2 separate regions of the Homo sapiens genome follow, and region 1 is linked to region 2. The links come from fine-mapping of genetic effects on plasma protein levels. Region 2 holds a variant in brackets. A gene starts in the other region. All regions are shown on their forward strands.

Region 1 (9,421 bases), not on the chromosome of region 2:
GTTCGGCCCTGTTCAAGTCAGCCATGGGACCTCCCCGGCACATGTCAGAGGATGTTTTCCTTCTTGCCTTGAGAGCTGGCCAGGCCCCAGCAGCTTGGGGTGGAAGGACAAGGGGAACCAGACACCGTTCCGTAGCCACCCCTTTTTCATTGTCTTCGCAGCAGAGCGATATGGAGCCTTTGAGGTCTGCTGGAGGGGAGTAGGGGGCTCAGCCCCAGACAATGTCTGGGACCCCCATCACCCGGCTTGCTGAAGCCCTGTCCGCCAAACCCCTGCCCTTTTGAAGGACAGCCAAGCAAAGCTGGGCGGGGCTGGTCGAGGGGAGGGCCAGTGCCCTCCGCTGCCCTGGCCAGCGGGGGTGGGAGCAGAGGGCCAGCTCAGCAGCTGAAGCCATGGAGATTAGAGGTAACTGAGGCTGCGGACAGCCATCGGAGGTGAGAGGTGTAGAGAGAGGCCAGGAACCCCCACCCAAGCAGAGAAGGACAGAGCAGAGGGAGAAATGGGTGCCCGAGTGGGACAGGTGTCCTTGGGGAGGGCTGACACCTGGACGGGGAGGGGCAGCTTCCCTTTCCTCCTGGACTCACAGGCTCTGGGGCTGGGGCTCTGGGGGCCCAGTGGCGGCGGAGACGGCAGTGGCGGCAGCTACAGCAGGTAGGCTGGGTTGGAGCGCCAGGTGCCAGGCACCAGGCAGGCGGGCTGGCAGGGGGGCGGCCCTGGGCGGGCCCAGGATGACTGGCCTCCAAGCCCTGCCTTAATGCCCCGGGGCGGGGTGTGTGTGAGGGCCCTCCCCGGAGGCCTCTGAGGCACTGGCTGCCTGCCTGTGCCACCTCTCCAAGCCCCTCTTCTCCCTGTGTCTCAGCCTCCCTCTGTCTGTCTGTCTGTCTGCAGCCTTCCTTTCCCTGCCCTGAGTCTCTGAATCTGTGTCTCGTTCTATGTGTCATTCCCTGTCATTCAGTAATTCTGACTTTGTGTGATTTTTCTCTTTCTGTCCCTATGTGTCTGTCTGCCTTTCTCTGTCCTCGTCCCTGTCTCCATCTCCACTCTTCTCTCTCTGTCTGGCTCTGTGTGGCCCTTTCTCTAATTCCTTCTATCTTTGTGTCTCTCAGTCAGTCTCTCTGACTGCATCTCTGGCAATTTGTCTTGAAATCCCTCTTCTTCCATCTAATCTCCGTCTCTCTTTTTCCTCCCGTCCCAGCCACTCCCTCTCCACAGCCCCAGCCCAGGTGGGCCCCTGGCCTCCCCTAGGCCGCTCCCTTCTCCTTTGCAAGGAGAGGGGGGGTGTGCTGGGATGTCACACAGGTGGGGCTGCTGCCAGGCACAGGGGCAGGACCGGAGGGTGGGGGAGGCAGGTCAGGGCCTGTGGAAGCCGAGTCCAGGAAAGGGAACAGAGCCCTTGGCTGTGCTCCACCCCAGGGCTCCTCTGGGGCCTCGCTCCTCTGCTGACCCTTCCCCTGCCCGCTTCTCCCTGCCGCCCAGGCAGCCCGAGTCCAGCTGTTCACTTACTGGCTGCTGTGAGACCTCTGCCCGATGACTTCCAGTCCCGCAGCCACCTCAACCTCTGCATCTGCGGAACCCGAGCGCAGATTCCTGCTTCTCCCAGCTTGTTTGTTTTCAGTTAGGTCCCTTCCCTTGGCTTTCCTCCCCTCTCTCCCCTGACCAGGTGTGGAGCAAGGCAGGGGAGGGCCTAGGTTCTGACAGCAGCCAGCCCTGGCCTCAAACCTAGGTGCTTCCTCTTCCTACTACTATGACTACCCTTATGACGTGGGGACAAGGGACTCCACCCCTGCAAGGCTCAGTTTCTTCATCTGAGAGATGGGGGTGACAGACCTGCTTGCAGGGGAGGTTGGGATCAGGCTTCCAGGAGGGTCCACTTGGAAAGAGCAGACTGCGGGGGGGCTCAGCAAATGTGCCTCCGCTGGTATGATCACCCCTCACTCCCTCCCTCCTCCAGTTTCCCTTCAGTGCATTTGGGGAGATGGTCTCTCCTCACCTCTTGAGTCCCAGTGGAGACAGAATCCAAGGGGTGGGCAGGAGGATTAAAGACGTAGGCTGAGCTCTCCTGCTTTCCAAGCCTGCACTCCACCCTTCGTCTTATTAGAACAAAGCCACGTCCCACATTAAAGATACAATGTATGCTTCATTACAAGAAAGTAAACTGCAGTTGGCTAGTGGAAAGAATGCTACGTTTTATGGACATTGGATTAAATGGTCATAAATGTTGACTTTGCAGCTTTCATCTGGTATTTTGGAGCTAACAATTTTCTTTTTCTTTTTCGGGTCTTTTGTGGACTCTTGAAAAGCTTATAAGCTCTGGGCACTATTTCTATTATGCCAGATGAAGAAACATGTGTCTTATTTATATTGCTGGGTTTTTGTTTTTGAGACAAGGTCTCACTTTATTGCCCAGGCTGGAGTGCAGTGGCATGATCTCGGCTCTTTGCAGCCTCCACCTCCCCGGCTCGGGTGATCCTCCCACCTCAGCTTCCCAAGTAGCTGGGACTACAGGCACGCACCACCACACCCAGCTAATTTTTTGTGTTTTTGTAGTGACAAGATTTCACTGTGTTGCCAGGCTGATCTCGAAATCTGAGCTCAAGCCATCCTCCCACCTCGGCCTCCCAAAGTGCTGGGATTACAGGCGTGGGCCACTGCACCCGGCCTATATTATTAAAAGTAACTTTTTCTACTCCATTTCTGAGTAACTACTCAGGGAAGACCCTCATCCTATTTGAGCACTGGGTTTTTTGTTTGTTTGTTTTTGAGATGGAGTCTCGCTCTGTCGCCCAGGCTGGAGTGTAATGGTTCAATCTCGGCTCGCTGCAGCCTCTGCCTCACGGGTTCATGCTATTCTCCTGTCTCAGCCTCCTGAGTAGCTGGGATTACAGGCATGCGCCACCATGCCTGGCTAATTTTTGCATTTTTAGTAGAGTTGGGGTTTCACTATGTTGACCAGGCTGGTCCCGAGTTCCTGACCTCAGGTGATCCACCTGCCTCAGCTTCCCAAAGTGATGGGATTACAGGTGTGAGCCACTGTGCCTGGCCTTATTTGAGCTCTGTTTCTACTCCTATGAGATAGGGAAACTGCTGAGTCCTTCTTCCAGTCTCAACCAGCATGAGGACTTCAAATGGACAGACATGGCCCCTCCTTCATTTATATTTATTCCAGACTATTGCACACTTCTCTCACCCCGCTCGTGGGTCTTAGAAGGGCTGGCAGGAGTTAAAGTTCCAAGAAGTTCCCAGGCCAACAAGAGTGGAGCTAGGGGAAGTGATGGAGGAGATATTGGTGCTCTGAGGGCCAGAGGGGTACCCAAGTTAAGGGGTGGGGGTGGAGGTGGAGGAAACAGGTCAGTTGTTCCTCATGATCATCCGGATCCAGTCCACATACTTGCAAATATAGGTGTAGACTCCAGGGATGCCATCTTGTCCACAGGGCCCCACAGACCCCCAGGACACCAGACCTTGAAGGACTCCCCCACACACCAGGGGGCCCCCAGAATCACCCTGGAAGGGAAGAGAAGTACTGTCTGAACAAGGGAGACATCTTATTTCTGTTTTCCTCCCCAACCCTTCAACCCAGTCCTGGGCCTTGGGGAGGGCTCCAAGTCTGGTCATTAGACAAAAGAGTATAATCACTTTCCCGGAGGACAATGGCAATGGCTAACCAAAAGAGAAGAACCACTGTCTCTAGGGGCCAATCCCAGGGAAGAAGGGTGGAACTCCATAAAGGACAGAGGTTCTCTCAAGGACAATGGCTGGGGCCCTGACCAATGAGGAGAGAGAGCACAGTCATTAATGACCAATCTCAGGGGAGGCTGTCAAGACAACATAAAGAGTCGAGCATTCTCTCAAGGACAATGGCTGGGGCCCTGACCAATGAGGAGAGAGAACACTATTATCAATGACCAATCCCAGGGGAGGAGGGTGGGACTCCATAAAGGATAGAGGTTCTCTCAAGGACAATGCCTGGGGTTCTGACCAATGAGGGGAGAGAGTGCCATCAAAAATGACCAATCCCAGGGAAGGTGGGCAGGACTCCATCAAAAGCACAGAGTTCTCTCAAGGACAATGGCTGGGGCCCTGACCAATGAGGGGAGAGACCGCCATCCTCAAATCTCTCTCAGTCTGGGACAGCACCAACTGGAGGATGGTATGGGAAAGACTTAGAGCCCCAGAAACAGCTGGTTCCCTGTCTGGGCTCCCAGTCCTCTCCGTCTGTTTTGCTGTCTCTCTCTGTAACCCCTGCCCCATCTTTCCTTCTCTGTTCCCTTCCTCCCTCTCTCTCCCTGCCCCTCCCCCTCCTCCATTCCCCGGTCCTCCCTTTTACTCCCTGTCTCTCTCCCTCCCTTATCCTGGGCCTCTCCTCCATTATTATTATTATTATTATTATTATTATTATTAATTATTTTGTTTTGAGACAGAGTCTGGCTCTGTCGCCCAGGCTGGAGTGCAGTGGCGTGATCTCAGCTCACTGCAACCTCCGCCTCCCGGGATCAAGCGATTCTCCTGCCTCAGCCTTCCAAGTAGCTGGGGCCACAGGCTTGCACCACCACCCCCGGCTAATTCTGGTATTTTTAGTAGATTCAGAGTCTCACCGTGTTGGCCAGGCTTGTCTTGAACTCCTGACCTCAAGTGATCCGCCCGCCTCGGCCTCCCAAAGTGCTGGGATTACAGGTGTGAGCCTCCGTAACCAGCCTCTCCCTTCCTTTTTGACCCCGTCTCTCTGCAGCATCCCCTTTCCCTGATTCATCCTCCATCAGTTCCCCTCCTGCTTCCAGCCCCTCCCCTTCACTTCCTGTCCTGGTGACCACGCACGCTGCCTGCACTGGCTCACCTGGCAGGCATCCTGCCCCGGGACGCCGCCTGCACACACCATGTTGCTCGTGATTCTCCCGGGATACACACCATGGCAGGTGGCATGGGAGACGATGGAGAGGTTGAGGCACTGGAGCAGATCCGGGAATGGGTCTGGAGAGAGAACATGCGTGCTGCAGGGTCCCCTAAATCTCCCCACTTTGAGGCCACGTCCCTCTTCCCTGGATGTGGCCCATCCATGTCAATACCCCTGCCCCTCACCGACCTGTACTACAATCCCGAAACCTCCAAGTTACATATTTATGACTTAATTTCATATGAATCATGACCCCAGATGATTGACGGTCTCTTTGATCTTTGACATTTGACTTTGAGTGGCATAACTCAAGAACTTTCTTGTCTCTCCAGCGTCAGAGACAACGAATCCAGACCTGACCCTCTTCAATGCCAGCTACTGTGATCTTTGACCTTCTGTCTTATTACCTTATGATCCCAGCTTGATCTCATATCTTCTGTCTCCTGACCCCATGTCCCTGTCTTTACCTTAACCTCCAACCTCAGCTCTGCATCTTCCAAACCTCACTGCTTCCAACGCCAGTGTCCCCTGATCCTAGTTTATTGGGCCCCAGCCTCCATGACCCCAAACTTCGGGCCCCACACCCCAAACGCTATGACCTCCAATCTCAGATATGTGATTTTGGATAGAATCCCAATTTCCATCCTCAGATTTTGACCAGATTGTACAACCTCTGGATCCCATGACCTTAATTCTACGGTGACCTCTAACCCCAGACCCATGACCCACAATGCCCATATCCTATACATACATATATATATATATATGCCTTTTGCTCCAGTGTGATGACCTCTGACACACTCTGACCTCTGACCTCTGATCCCTGACTTCATACCCAGTCCTTTAACCCCTTTGGCTCCCAAGACCCCAATCCACCATAATCTCTGACCCCAAACCATGATCCTGATGTCCCATCCCACACCCTGACCCTTTACCCATCCTTCCTCTGAGGTGTCATGATTCGACCTCTCGCCCTGCATCCCAGACTTGTACCCATCCTGACCCCTGACCCCTGGCCCTGGGCCCCTTACTCCGTGGGTGGTTGGTGATGCCCCAGCCTGAGACGTGGCACTCGGTGCCAGCGGTTGCACAGTCATTGGGCAGGGGCAGGGGTTGAACGCTGCTGGTTACGCGGACGGGCAGGCGCAGCCGCAGCAGCCGGAGGTCGTGCTCGTGGCTCGTCGAGGCTCCCAGGTAGCCGGGATGGGTCACAGAGAAGCCGCTGTGCCGGATCTGCTCGGTCCAGTCGAGCTGGCTGAGGCTGTGTTCCCCCAGGCGCACCCAGTACCTGCTGCCGGTGGCGACGGCTGAGCGGGTGGCAGGCACGCAGTCCCCCACCTTGCACCCCTCCACGGACACTCAGGCGCTCCTGCCGCTCCCCACTGTTCTGCCCCTCACTGTCTGTCCTCTCACCCGCAACTCTCATTCTCCGAGTCTCTCTTACAGGCTCTTATTCCCAACCTCCATCACCCTCTTTCCATCTTGGGTGTTCCCTGTTTCTCCTACCATGTCCCTGCATCTGTGTCTCTCTCTCTCCTTTTTTTTTTTTTTTTTTTTTTCAAGACCGAGTCTCGCTCTGTCGCCCAGGCTGGAGTGCAGTGGCACCATCTTGGCTCACTACAACCTCCACCTCCCAGGTTCAAGCAATTCACCTGCCTCAGCCTCCCAAGTAGCTGGGATTACAGAAGCATGCCACCATGCCCAGCTAATTTTTGTATTTTTAGTAGAGATAAGGTTTCACCATGTGTGTCAGGCTGGTCTCAAACTCCTGACCTCAAGTGATCCGCCCGCCTCGGCCTCCCAAAGTGCTGGGATTACAGGTGTGAGCCACCGCGCCAGGCCTCTCTTTCTGATTCTCTCGGCTGGTGAAGCCCATGAAGGCAGGGACATCAGTGGACCTTGTTCACTGCCTTATTCCCACCGCCTGGCACGGAGCATGTGCCCTCCATGCTCATGCGTGGACGAGTGGGTTCATGATTGAACGAGTGGGTTGATGAATGGCCTCTCTGCATCCTGCTGCTGGCCCTCTCTCTCCCTGAGTCTCTGTTTCTTTGCATCTGATCTCCCCTTTCACAAAAAAAGTTCCAGGCCAGGCACAGTGGCTCATGCCTGTAATCCCAGCACTTTGGGAGGTCAAGGCAGGAAGATTGCTTGAGCTGAGGAGTTTGAGACCAGCCTGGGTAACATAGCAAAACCCTGTCTCTACAAAAAAAATTTAAAAATTAGCCAGGTGTGGTGGCGCAGGCCTGTAGTCTTAGCTCCTTGGGAGGCTGAGGTGTGAGGATCACTTGAGCCCAGGTGGTTGAGGCTGTAGTGAGCCAAGATAGCATCACTGCACTCCAGCTTGGATGACAGAAAGAGCAAGACTCTGTCTCCAAAAAAAAAAAAAAAGAAAGAAAAAGAAAAAAATTCCAGAACATCAGTCTACTGAGGCCCAGAGAGGTGCCAGGCATAGATTCTGAAGTTGCACAAAGAGTTTGGGTCATGTTGGCCGGGTGCAGTGGCTCACACCTGTAATCCCAGCACTTTGGGAGGCCAAGACGGGCAGGTCATTTGAGGCCAGGAGTTCGAGACCAGCCTGGCCAACATGGCAAAACCCTGTCTCTACAAAAAATACAAAAATTAGCTGGGCATGGTGGCGGGTGCCTGTAATCCCAGCTACTCAGGAGGCTGGGGCAGGAGAATCACTTGAACCTGGGAGGCAGAGACAGCAGTGAGCTGTGATCACGCCATTGCACAGCAGCCTGGGCGACAGAGCGAGACCCTGTCTCAAAAAAATAAAAAAAAGAAAAAGAAAAAGAGCTTGGGTGAGACCTGGGCCCCGGGCCCAGACTGGGTCAAGGAATGGCTGGGGTGAGTGGCAGATGTCATATAGGAAAGAAAGGGTACATGCAGGAATGGGAGAGGCAGGAGGGCAGGTTCCAGGACCCTCCCCGGCCCTCCACCCAACATACCTCACCCTGCCCAGCACCACCCCAGGCCCACTGCTAAGGAAGTTCCACTCCTGGTCTAACCTCAGACTCTCTTGTTGCAGGATCAGCTTCTTCCCAGTGGGCACCACCCTCCCTTGTGATCCTACCCCCAGCGCTTGCCTTCCCATAGTCCTCCCTTCGCCCACCCCAGGAAGGGACTTACCTGCCGCTGCAGTGAGCCGCTGTGAGGACCCACCTGTGGTCAATAAGGACACCCCCGCAGCGCAGGCTGGTGCCCTCAAACAGCCCCACCTGCCACGGCTGTGAGTTACGCCCACACTCAGTGCCATTGAAAATCTTCGGTGTGGCTGCCTGGCTGAGCCCTGGAGACAGACAGGGGCATGGGTCAGAGAGAGGAAGAAAAGATACAGAGATGGAGAGACACACAGAGTGAGAGAGAGAAACAGGCAGGAGAGAGAGAGGAGAAAGAGAGACGAGAAAGAGAGAGAAAGAGAGAGAGACCCAGTGATAGAAAAAGACCATGAAACATCAAAGACACCCAGGGAGAAAGATGCTTACACATAGGAGGGAAATGGAGAGACAGAGATTCAGAGAGGGACAGAAGGGAAGAGGGATCAAAAAATAGGGGAGACCGAGGTGAGCAGTACCCTGAGAGCTGCAGGTAAATGGAGGCACAGAGAAAGCCCCTCTCCTCCTCACCACCAGGCTGGGGGCCAGAGCTGAGATGGGGAGGGTGGTGGGGCCTCCTCATGGGGGTGAAGGGATCCAGTCGCAGTCCTGCCCTCTCCCTGCTCCGGGAGAACTCACCAAGAACACACAGGAGCAAAAAGATGCTGAGCCCCATGGTGGGTCACTTCCAAAGTCTGGGGGAAAAGGGGAATCTCAGAGGTCACCCTTTCCCTGTGCCCCCCACCTCTGCCCTCTCTGCTTCTCTTTGAAGGTCACCAAGGGGATGACCTGCTTGTCCTCTCTCTACCTGCTCCCCTGTGTGTCACTCCCTCATTGGCAGTCGCCTACCTCCTTCTCACCTTGTCTCTTTGTCTGCCAGATCCTCTACGTGGCTGTCACTGTTTGGCCTGTCCTCGTCGCTGCTATCTCTCCGTCCACCTACCTGCCTGTCTTCTCATGTGCTGGCCACTCCGCCAGCCAACTCTACCACTCTGCACCTGGCTCCTCAGCCACCTGTCATGTTGCTCAACCGGTCCCTTTCCTTCCATCTGTCGCTCCAGACAGACCACTGACAAAGCTCTTAACTCTCTTTGTCCTGGCCCATCCAGTTTCCGGGTTAAGGGAAGGGGACCACGAAGACAGGGGTGGGGCGTGCTCTAATTCTGCAGAAACTCTTCTCAGCTAATCACACTTAATTGAGCTTTACAGCTAAACGGAGTGGGGAAGGAGGAAAGGACCCAGGGTGGGAAGACCCAGCCCCACTCCCTCTCTCCTCTGCAAGCCCGTCAGCAGCCCCAGGACTGATGACTCAAGGTGACTAGGGAGCTGGGTTCTAATCCTGACTCCAGTGACAAAGGAGGGTGGGGAGACCTTGGACACCTGGGGCCCATCCCCATGCAGTGCAGGGGAGGGGCAGGGGGAAGGAGAG
Region 2 (9,487 bases):
AGAGTCTCACTCTGTCTCCCAGGCTGGAGTGCAGTGGTGCGATCTCGGCTCACTGAAACCTCCGCCTCCCAGGTTCAAGCGATTCTCCTGCCTCAGCCTCCCGAGTAGCTGGGATTATAGGCGCCCGCCACCACGGCCAGCTAATTTTTTTATTTTTAGTAAAGATGGGGTTTCATCACGTTGGCCAGGCTGGTCTTGAACTCCTGACCTCAAGTGATCCACCCACCTCATCCTCCCAAAGTGCTGGGATTACAGGCGTGAACCACCACGCCTGGCCCAATCCTGCCAATCTTATGGTCTCTATTTCAACATTCACTCTGGGCATTTGTGTCTAAACCACAAAAGGGAGGGGCTCTAACGAGCTGTATATGTCCTCCTGTCCCGTCCTAGCTGGGAACTCAGGTGTTAAGGTTTCTCTGGGGTCTCCTTGGCTAACAGGCGTCCTTTTAGTTGACTGGGAGCTTAGAATTTTATTTTTAGTTCTCAAAGCTAATCTGAAAAGGCCGCATGCTGTATGATTCCAACTATACAACATTCCGGGAGAGGCAATCTACCCAGACAGTAAGAATCCTCAGTGGTTGCCAGGGAAGGGAGGGGTGAATAGTGGAGCTCGGGGGAATTTCGGGGCAGGGAAGCCTCTCCTGACACCATCATGGTGGATACCTGACCTCATGCACTTGCCAGGACTCCCGGAACGCAAGACGCCAAGACTGGCCCCCAATTCGAGCTGTGGACCCTGCGTGATGGGGCCAGGTCAGTGCAGATTCGTCGCACAGCAAGGACCCAGCACCAAGGCAAAGGCGCTAACAATAGGGGTGCAGAGTGTGTGTGAGGGGCGAGGCGAGGGGCACATGGGGGCTCCGTCTACTTTCCACTCAGCTTTTCCATAAACCCCAAACTGCTTTAGATAGTAGAGCCTATTAATTTTTAAAAAAGTGTAGCTATAAAAATTCCAAGAAAAGAGAAGGAAGAAAGTGGATGACAATCAGTATAATCTTGAGGGCATCCACGTGGCCAATGGACTTGTGAAAACGTGATCGGCTGCAGGCCCGCCTTGGCTGAGGGACCCCCTGCCGCACCGGCCATTCCCCCCACAAGCCCAGACTTCCTGGAAGAGCTGGGGTCCTGCGTGCCACCTGCTCCGCCTCCTTCGGCCTGCAATGGTTCATTCTGTGTCAGCTTGGCCAGGCCGCAGGACTCTGATGTTGGTCAAACAGCAGTCCAGAAGTTTCAGTGAAGGTATTTTTCGAAGATAAAATTACCGCTGAGATCAGTAGACTTTGAATCAGCAGGTCAGCCTCCGCGACACAGGAGTCTCATCCAGTCTATGAAGGCCGGAGAGAAAGGAGAGAAAGGAGGATGGAATCCTGCCTGCAGGCATCTTTGGATTTGAGTGGCTACTTCGGCTCCTCCTGCGTCCCCAGCCTGCCTGCCTGCCGTAGTCATGTGAGCCAATTTCTCCAAGTAAGTTTCTCTCTCTCTGTCTCCACATTCTATTGGTTCTTTTTTTTTTTTTCTTTTTTTGAGACGGAGTTTTGTTCTTGTTGTTTAGGCTGGAGTGCAATGGCGCGATCTCGGCTCACTGCAACTTCCATCTCCTGGGTTCAAGCAATTCTCCTGCCTCAACCTCCCAAGTACCTGAGATTACAGGCATGCGCCACCACCCACGGCTAATTTTGTATTTTTAGTATAGATGGGGTTTCTCCATGTTGGTCAGGCTGGTCTCGAACTCCTGACCTCAAGTGATCTGCTTGTCCTGACCTCCCAAAGTGCTGGGATTACAGGCATGAGCCACCACTCCCGGCCTATTGGTTCTATTTCTCTAGAGAACTCTCACTACTACAGCTACACCTCCCTGGGCCTCAGTTTCCCCTTCTGTCCATCAGCGAGGCCGAAGGCTGCCATGGGCTGAGGTCTCACACCCGGCGCTCCTGCCCCTGCCCCTGATTCCGGGGCAGCCTGCATAGGCCAGGCAGTGGTCGAGGCCCACTTTCCCCGCCCAGCAACTGTGGTTCAGCGGTTCAGCGGCTGACCTCCCAGCCCAGAAACAGAAACTCTTTTTCTCTTGCAAAACAGAAAGTGTCCCCATTAAACACTCACTTCCCGCTGGCTCCCCCGACCCCGGGCCCCACCGTCTGCTTTTTCTGCCTATGAACCGGCCCACTCTGGGGACCTCGTGTGTGGGGAGTCACACAGTGTTTGTCCTTTTGTGGCTTGTGCCCCTCGGTGTGACGTCCTCGAGGTTCCTCCACGCTGCGGCGGGTGTGGGAGCCCTTCCTTCCTGAGGTGACTCCCTCTGTGCGGAATCACCGTGCTGTCCGTTCCTTCCTCCGGCGGTGGACACGGAGCTGCTGCTTCCACATGGCCGCTGATTGTGAATTGCGCTGCTGGGAATGGGGTGCACTGACTTCCATCTTTTTAAGGCTGAATACTCCTCCATGTATGTAATAACTTGGTTTTGCAGGTTGAATTGAGATAAAAACTGAAGACCCCAAACCAATCTTGGATTCTGTGGCTAAGCAGTTGGGGACGACGGTGCCCCCGTGCCCGGGGCAGGCATCCTGCGCTCTCACAGCCCTGGCCAGTGGCACCGGCAGTGCCCCTCCGGCCACACCCCGGCCAGGTTTTCTAAGGCTGGACAAACACAGGGGCCCCCACTGGTGGGTGCGGCAGACTGACTGGGGTCAGAGGTATGGGGAGAACACGCGGAGATCCACCCAAGAAGGGGAGCGATTGTGCCACAGTCGAGGGGGCCACGGCGATGGTGTGGTCACACGGCCTCGGTCACCCTCCAGAGGACCCTCCACATCCTGAACTCTCCAGAATCTCAGGAGCCTCACCCAGACTCAGAGCGAGGTTTGTCCACACTGGAGCCCTGACGCACGAGGGTAGAGACCACCAGGACTCACACCGCAGCCCCCCATGCGGCCCCACCAGCCCCCAGGGCCTTGGCGCTGCACCCAGATCGCCAGCCCGGTCTCCTGTAGCCCGAGGGTGGGTTCCCTTTCAGAGGCCCCCCGCTCACCTTCGCTCCTGCTGGGAGCCCTGGGCGGACTCCCCCCCACCCCGCCCAATTCCAAGGACCCCGGGCTCCATCCACGAGGCCCACAGGACCCGCGGTCCCCCGTGCAGAGTAAGGCGTCCAACGCCCACGCACTCCGCAGACCCGGCCGGTGGGTGTGGGCGGGGCTGGGGTGGGGCGCAGGGGTGGGGGCGGCGCTGCAGGGTCGGGGGCGCGGGGGCGCGGGGGCGCGGGGGCGCGGGCGTGGGTGGAGCTGGCCGGGCTCAGGGGCCTGGGACACGGGGCGGGGCCGCGCCTCTCTCGCTCCGGGTCCCACGCGCCCCGGCCTCCTCCCGGCACTGTCCCCCGGGGAGCCCCGAGGCCCGGCCACACCCAGGGCGCTCCTGAAGCCGCCGCAGCTGCTGTGCGAGGCCGGGCCGACCCGCCTGGGGCGCGTGGGTGGGGCGGGAGCGCAGCCGCAGCCCGGCGGCGACACAGGCCCGGGGCCAGCCGGGGACGGAAAAAGTGAGTGCGCGGCGGCGCGGGGCGGCCTGACGGGAAGGCGGGAGGCGAAGTGCTGACTGCGCCGCGGTCTCTCAGCCGCCAACACACCGCGGACGCCCGGGGACAGCGACCGCTTCCTCCCTCCCCGCCCGCCTTGTCTCTTTTTGTGAGTATCGATCTGAGCTCATGTTCTTTTTAACGTACTCAAAGTGTGTCAATCAATTAGGCTTTTTTTTTTTTTTTTTTTGACAGGGTCTTGCTCTGTCGCCCAGGCTGGAGTCAGTGGCACCATCGTGGCTCACTGCGGCCTCCACCTCCGGGACTCCAGGGATCCTCCCGCCTCAGCCTCCCGAGGAGCTGGGACCACCGCACCTGGCTAATTTTAAAATTTTTCCTTAGAGACAGGATCTCACTTTGCTGCCCAGGCTGGTCTCAAACTCCTGGGCTCAAGCGACCCTCCCGCCTCGGCCTCCCAAAGTGCCACCGTGCCAAGCCTCAGTTAGGTTTTTAATTTTAATTTGGCATTGTTTGATGCTCAGACTGCTGCCGTGTCATTTTCACACGACAGCAAGTTGGGGACAGCGAGTTGTTCTGTCCTGCGCGTGTGTCCCCTCATGGTCTTGAGTGACCTGACCCTCTGTGGGGAGCCCTGAGCCTCCTCCCTGCTCCCGCGGCCCCAGCTCTCAGCTGATGGAGGCTCCGGGGCGGGCTCAAGCCCCCGGCCGGCTTTGGACGGCTTTGCCGTTGCCGAGCCAGCGCCGTGAGCTCGTGGGCTCTGCGTCTGCACATGTTTGCCGGTGACCTCTGGGAAGTGTTTCGACGAGGATGGGGGTTGAGGGGGCAAAGGGCAAGTGCCCACCGC[C/T]TACCAGACAGCACCGGTGCGTCTCCAGCTCGGCTTCCCCGCCAGCCCCTCAGGCCTGCTCCCTGCTGCCTCGCCAACAGCCGCACCGTTGTCAGAGCTCTGTCAGCCTGGTGGATGTAGTTTCAACTTGTATTTTTGTTGAGAGAACCTGAACAACCTTTCATTGTTTAAGGGATATGGGTATGCACGCAGGCACTGCCGTATATACATATATTGTAGATACACACGTCCGCACACCTGTACACACACACCCACACACATACCCCTGTGTATGTACATACACACATTTGTATGCACACATATGTCTACACACGTGTAGACACGTGCACACACAGGCTCACGCACACACATTTTCTCTGAGCTGTTGGGTTATGTCTCCTGCACTTTCTCGTGTATTTTTGACCTTGCTTTTTCCAGACTCTTAGATCTTCCTACGACTGGCATATTCGCTCTTTTGTGGTGGTGCAAACATTTTCCCTCAGTTTGTTTATGATTTTTTTTGCCAAGCTAAAGTTTTTTGTTTTCCAATATATGGAGTTCAGTGTATCAGTCTTCTCTTTAATTGTTGCCTGATGTCCTTTATTCATTGGGAATGCCTTCCCCTCCCACACTGCAAGAATGCACCCACGGTTTCTTGTTTCTTGTAGGGTTCCTTTTTTTTTCTTTTTTGAGACGGAGTCTTGCTGTGTCGCCCAGGCTGGAGTGCAGTGGCATGATCTCGGCTCACTGCAAGCTCCGCCTCCCGGGTTCACGCCATTCTCCTGCCTCAGCCTCCCGAGTAGCTGGGACCACAGGTGCCCGCCACCATGCCCGGCTAATTTTTTGTGTTTTTAGTAGAGACAGGGTTTCACCGTGTTAGCCAGGATGGTCTCAATCTCCTGACCTTGTGATCCACCCGCCTCGACCTCCCAAAGTGCTGGGATCACAGGCGTGAGCCACCACGCGCGGCCAGGGTTCTTTTTGTATGCTTTTCTCTCTGCTGCATTTGGGATTTTGTGCATATGAGTCTAACTTAATACTTTTCCAGATGGCTATCCCTATCCCTGGGCAGTTGGTTAAAAAGTCGTTTTTCCCCTCACTGATTTGGGTCGCAGGGACTGGGCCTGTTCCTGTGTCTTCTGGTGCTTATCCCACCCTGTTTTCATTACAGTAAGTTTCCCCTGAGCTCATAAAGCTGGTCCTCTTTCACTTTCTTTTCATGGTTTTTTTGGCTGTTACTTGCTTGTTAATTTTTCCATATGAGCATGGTAGTTCCAGAACTGTGGTTTTTACTGGGATCGTATTAAATTTACAAATTGTATCGGAAGAACGTGCATGTTTGCAGCTGTGGCGCCTCTTCGGGGCCCGGGGGTCAGGGTGCCTTTGATTGAGTTCAGCCTCTGCGGCAGCTTTCCCACGTTTCTGGCTAGGTTTATGCCGGGAGCATCTTCTCTCTTGCTGTCCTAGATGAAACATCGCCCGCCACTCCGTCTCCTAGCGCACTGTGCTGTGAATGGGGTGAATGGGTGTATGAGAGCCGTGAATTTTGGACGCTGGCGCGCTGCGCTGTGAATGGGTGTTTGAGAGCCTTGAGTTCTGGATGCTAGCGCGCTGCGCTGTCAATGGATGAATGAGAGCCGTGAGTTCTGGATGCTGGCGCGCTGCGCTGTGAATGGGTGTTTGAGAGCCTTGAGTTCTGGATGCTGGCGCGCTGCGCTGTCAGTGGATGAATGAGAGACGTGAGTTCTGGATGCTAGCGCCCTGCGCTGTCAATGGATGAATGAGAGCCGTGAGTTCTGGATGCTGGCGCGCTGCGCTGTGAATGGGTGTTTGAGAGCCTTGAGTTCTGGATGCTGGCGCGCTGCGCTGTCAATGGATGAATGAGAGCCTTGAGTTCTGGATGCTGGCGCGCTGCGCTGTCAGTGGATGAATGAGAGACGTGAGTTCTGGATGCTGGCGCGCTGCGCTGTGAATGGGTGTATGAGAGCCTTGAGTTCTGGATGCTGGCGCGCTGCGCTGTGAATGGGTGTTTGAGAGCCTTGAGTTCTGGATGCTGGCGCGCTGCGCTGACAATGGATGAATGAGAGCCTTGAGTTCTGGATGCTGGCGCGCCGCGCTGTCAGTGGATGAATGAGAGACGTGAGTTCTGGACGCTGGTGCGCAGCGCTGTCAATGGATGAATGAAAGCCTTGAGTTCTGGATGCTGGCGCGCTGCGCTGTGAATGGGTGTTTGAGAGCCTTGAGTTCTGGATGCTGGCGTGCTGCGCTGTCAGTGGATGAATGAGAGACGTGAGTTCTGGACGCTGGCGCGCTGCGCTGTCAATGGATGAATGAGAGCCTTGAGTTCTGGATGCTGGCGCGCTGCGCTGTGAATGGGTGTTTGAGAGCCTTGAGTTCTGGATGCTGGCGTGCTGCGCTGTCAGTGGATGAATGAGAGACGTGAGTTCTGGACGCTGGCGCGCTGCGCTGTCAATGGATGAATGAAAGCCTTGAGTTCTGGATGCTGGCGCGCTGCGCTGTGAATGGGTGTATGAGAGCCTTGAGTTCTGGATGCTGGTGCGCTGCGCTGTCAATGGATGAATGAGAGCCGTGAGTTCTGGATGCTGGCGCGCTGCGCTGTGAATGGGTGTTTGAGAGCCTTGAGTTCTGGATGCTGGCGCGCTGCGCTGTCAGTGGATGAATGAGAGACGTGAGTTCTGGATGCTAGCGCGCTGCGCTGTCAATGGATGAATGAGAGCCGTGAGTTCTGGATGCTGGCGCGCTGCGCTGTGAATGGGTGTTTGAGAGCCTTGAGTTCTGGATGCTGGCGCGCTGCGCTGTCAATGGATGAATGAGAGCCTTGAGTTCTGGATGCTGGCGCGCTGCGCTGTCAGTGGATGAATGAGAGACGTGAGTTCTGGATGCTGGCGCGCTGCGCTGTGAATGGGTGTATGAGAGCCTTGAGTTCTGGATGCTGGCGCGCTGCGCTGTGAATGGGTGTTTGAGAGCCTTGAGTTCTGGATGCTGGCGCGCTGCGCTGACAATGGATGAATGAGAGCCTTGAGTTCTGGATGCTGGCGCGCTGCGCTGTGAATGGGTGTTTGAGAGCCTTGAGTTCTGGATGCTGGCGCGCTGCGCTGTGAATGGGTGTTTGAGAGCCTTGAGTTCTGGATGCTGGCGCGCTGCGCTGTCAATGGATGAATGAAAGCCTTGAGTTCTGGATGCTGGCGCGCTGCGCTGTGAATGGGTGTTTGAGAGCCTTGAGTTCTGGATGCTGGCGCGCCGCGCTGTCAGTGGATGAATGAGAGACGTGAGTTCTGGACGCTGGCGCGCTGCGCTGTCAATGGATGAATGAGAGCCTTGAGTTCTGGATGCTGGCGCGCTGCGCTGTGAATGGGTGTTTGAGAGCCTTGAGTTCTGGATGCTGGCGCGCTGCGCTGTCAGTGGATGAATGAGAGACGTGAGTTCTGGATGCTGGCGCGCTGCGCTGTCAATGGATGAATGAAAGCCTTGAGTTCTGGATGCTGGCGCGCTGCGCTGTGAATGGGTGTATGAGAGCCTTGAGTTCTGGATGCTGGTGCGCTGCGCTGTCAATGGATGAATGAGAGCCGTGAGTTCTGGATGCTGGCGCGCTGTGCTGTGAATGGGTGTTTGAGAGCCTTGAGTTCTGGATGCTGGCGCGCTGCGCTGTCAGTGGATGAATGAGAGCCGTGAGTTCTGGATGCTGGCGCGCTGCGCTGTGAATGGGTGTTTGAGAGCCTTGAGTTCTGGATGCTGGCGCGCTGCGCTGTCAATGGATGAATGAGAGCCGTGAATTCTGGACGCTGGCGCGCTGCGCTGTGAGTGGGTGTTTGAGAGCTGTGAGTTCTGGACGCTGATCTCACAGGCAGCACTCTATGGCTTTCTCATTGCCTGTGGTCATTTTCCATGGGACCTATCGGGTTTTGCGGATGGAAACCCACATCATGTGCAGAGCCCCCGGGCAGCGTTCCCTGCCAGGCCTGATCTGCCGGATCTCACCGGGAGTTCCCAGAGCTGCGAGGTCTCTGTGCCTGTCCCTGACACAGGCATGGGGTCCAGGACTGGGCTCCAGGATGGCAAGCAGAGAATGAGCCCCGGGGTGTCAGTGGGTGTTTGGCTGCGGTGCCCGAGGGCCTGGCAGGGCTCCTTTCCCTGCACCGTCCCTGCTGCTAGCTGCCAAGGACCGCAGCAGGGTGATAGGGCTCCAGCAGACGTGACCCCGCCTCCCCCGCTGCCCCCACCCTGTGTACTTAGGGAGGGACCCGCAGATGCTGTGTCCCTCATAGCCCAGGGCAGCCCTCCCACCCCGCTGTGGACGCCCTGGCACCAGGTACCACCCCTGCCCGGAGGGACTGGTAGGCATGGGGACACGGGGGCTATGGAGCAGGCACAGTCACTCAGGGACACCCATGCCTGGCCAGGAAGCCTGGGGCCAGGGGGCCGTGGGACCCCCCTAAAAGGCCTGGGCTTGGGGAAGATGGTGTCCCCAGCCCCGTGATGTTGGAGGAATTTTTCACCGGAGGGCTCTACATGTGAGTGGGGCAAACAGGGCGAGGAGGGCCTGTGTGTTTCTGGGACAGCGAGGGGAAGGCCTGACTCAGGCCAGGATCCAGGGGAGCCACCAGCACCCTCCACACACAGCCTCAGCCTGGCTGCCGCCTTGTCCCTCCCTGGAGGCCTCCCTCCCTCCTGCCCACTGCCCCCACAGCCACCAGACAGGACAGAACTCCTTAGCATGCTCTCATATTTAATTATAATTATAATATAATAGAACCACAGGGAAGGGGGATCCCTTGTCCCAGCCACTCAGGTGCCTGCTGGCCGCCTGGATGCTGGTGGCCCTGCCCCAGGAGTGGGGGTGCAGTGTGTGGATGTGAGGAGTGGATAGGCCACGGCGGGGGTACTAGGCCCCGGGGGAACGCCTGTACCTTCCCACCCAGGCCCTGGTGGGAGCCCGGCCAACCCCTTTAAATAATTTCAGGAATGGGTTCCAAGGAGAGCTCCCAGGGTGGGCACATGGGGGGCCCTAGGTGCCTGCACTTCTGCCCTCCCAACACCCAGGTGGCCACAGCTGGGAGGGGCCTGAGTCAACCCCAGCCCTGCCCTCCTGACCTTGGGACCGTAGGATGTCCCTCTCCCGA

Alleles and levels. Positions count from the first base shown, and alleles are read on the strand shown. Strength reflects both the effect of a copy and how common the allele is.
For the plasma level of the protein whose gene starts at base 663 in region 1, allele C in region 2 goes with a higher level than allele T (strong association).

Evidence for each region. PIP is the posterior inclusion probability: the model's chance that the variant is causal. The UK Biobank Pharma Proteomics Project read protein levels with antibody pairs (Olink). The fine-mapping took linkage between variants from a reference panel, not from the people measured, so its PIPs are less certain.
Region 1: KLK11 starts here. The variant in region 2 is fine-mapped to the plasma level of the KLK11 protein (UK Biobank, PIP above 0.99).

The regions. Positions count from the first base shown.
Region 1 is chr19:51,025,954-51,035,374 of GRCh38, forward strand. It overlaps KLK11 (kallikrein related peptidase 11), which reads right to left and starts at 663. Exons shown (of 6, transcript NM_001136032.3): 1 at 585-663. KLK12 (kallikrein related peptidase 12) reads right to left here and starts at 9,049. Exons shown (of 6, transcript NM_001370125.1): 1 at 8,853-9,049; 2 at 8,632-8,687; 3 at 8,027-8,186; 4 at 5,923-6,182; 5 at 4,835-4,968; 6 at 3,141-3,504. The coding sequence starts at 8,668. The coding sequence ends at 3,349. RefSeq lists enhancers at 1-300, 301-858, 1,418-1,974 and a silencer at 4,007-4,238.
Region 2 is chr2:241,840,808-241,850,294 of GRCh38, forward strand. It overlaps LOC124905350 (a long non-coding RNA gene), which reads left to right and starts at 3,360. Exons shown (of 2, transcript XR_007088410.1): 1 at 3,360-3,671; 2 at 3,758-5,673. It overlaps PDCD1 (programmed cell death 1), which reads right to left. Exons shown (of 5, transcript NM_005018.3): 5 at 9,077-9,487. RefSeq lists silencers at 1,119-1,278, 2,210-2,504 and an enhancer at 1,882-2,579. The variant C/T (reference allele first, on the strand shown) is at 4,368.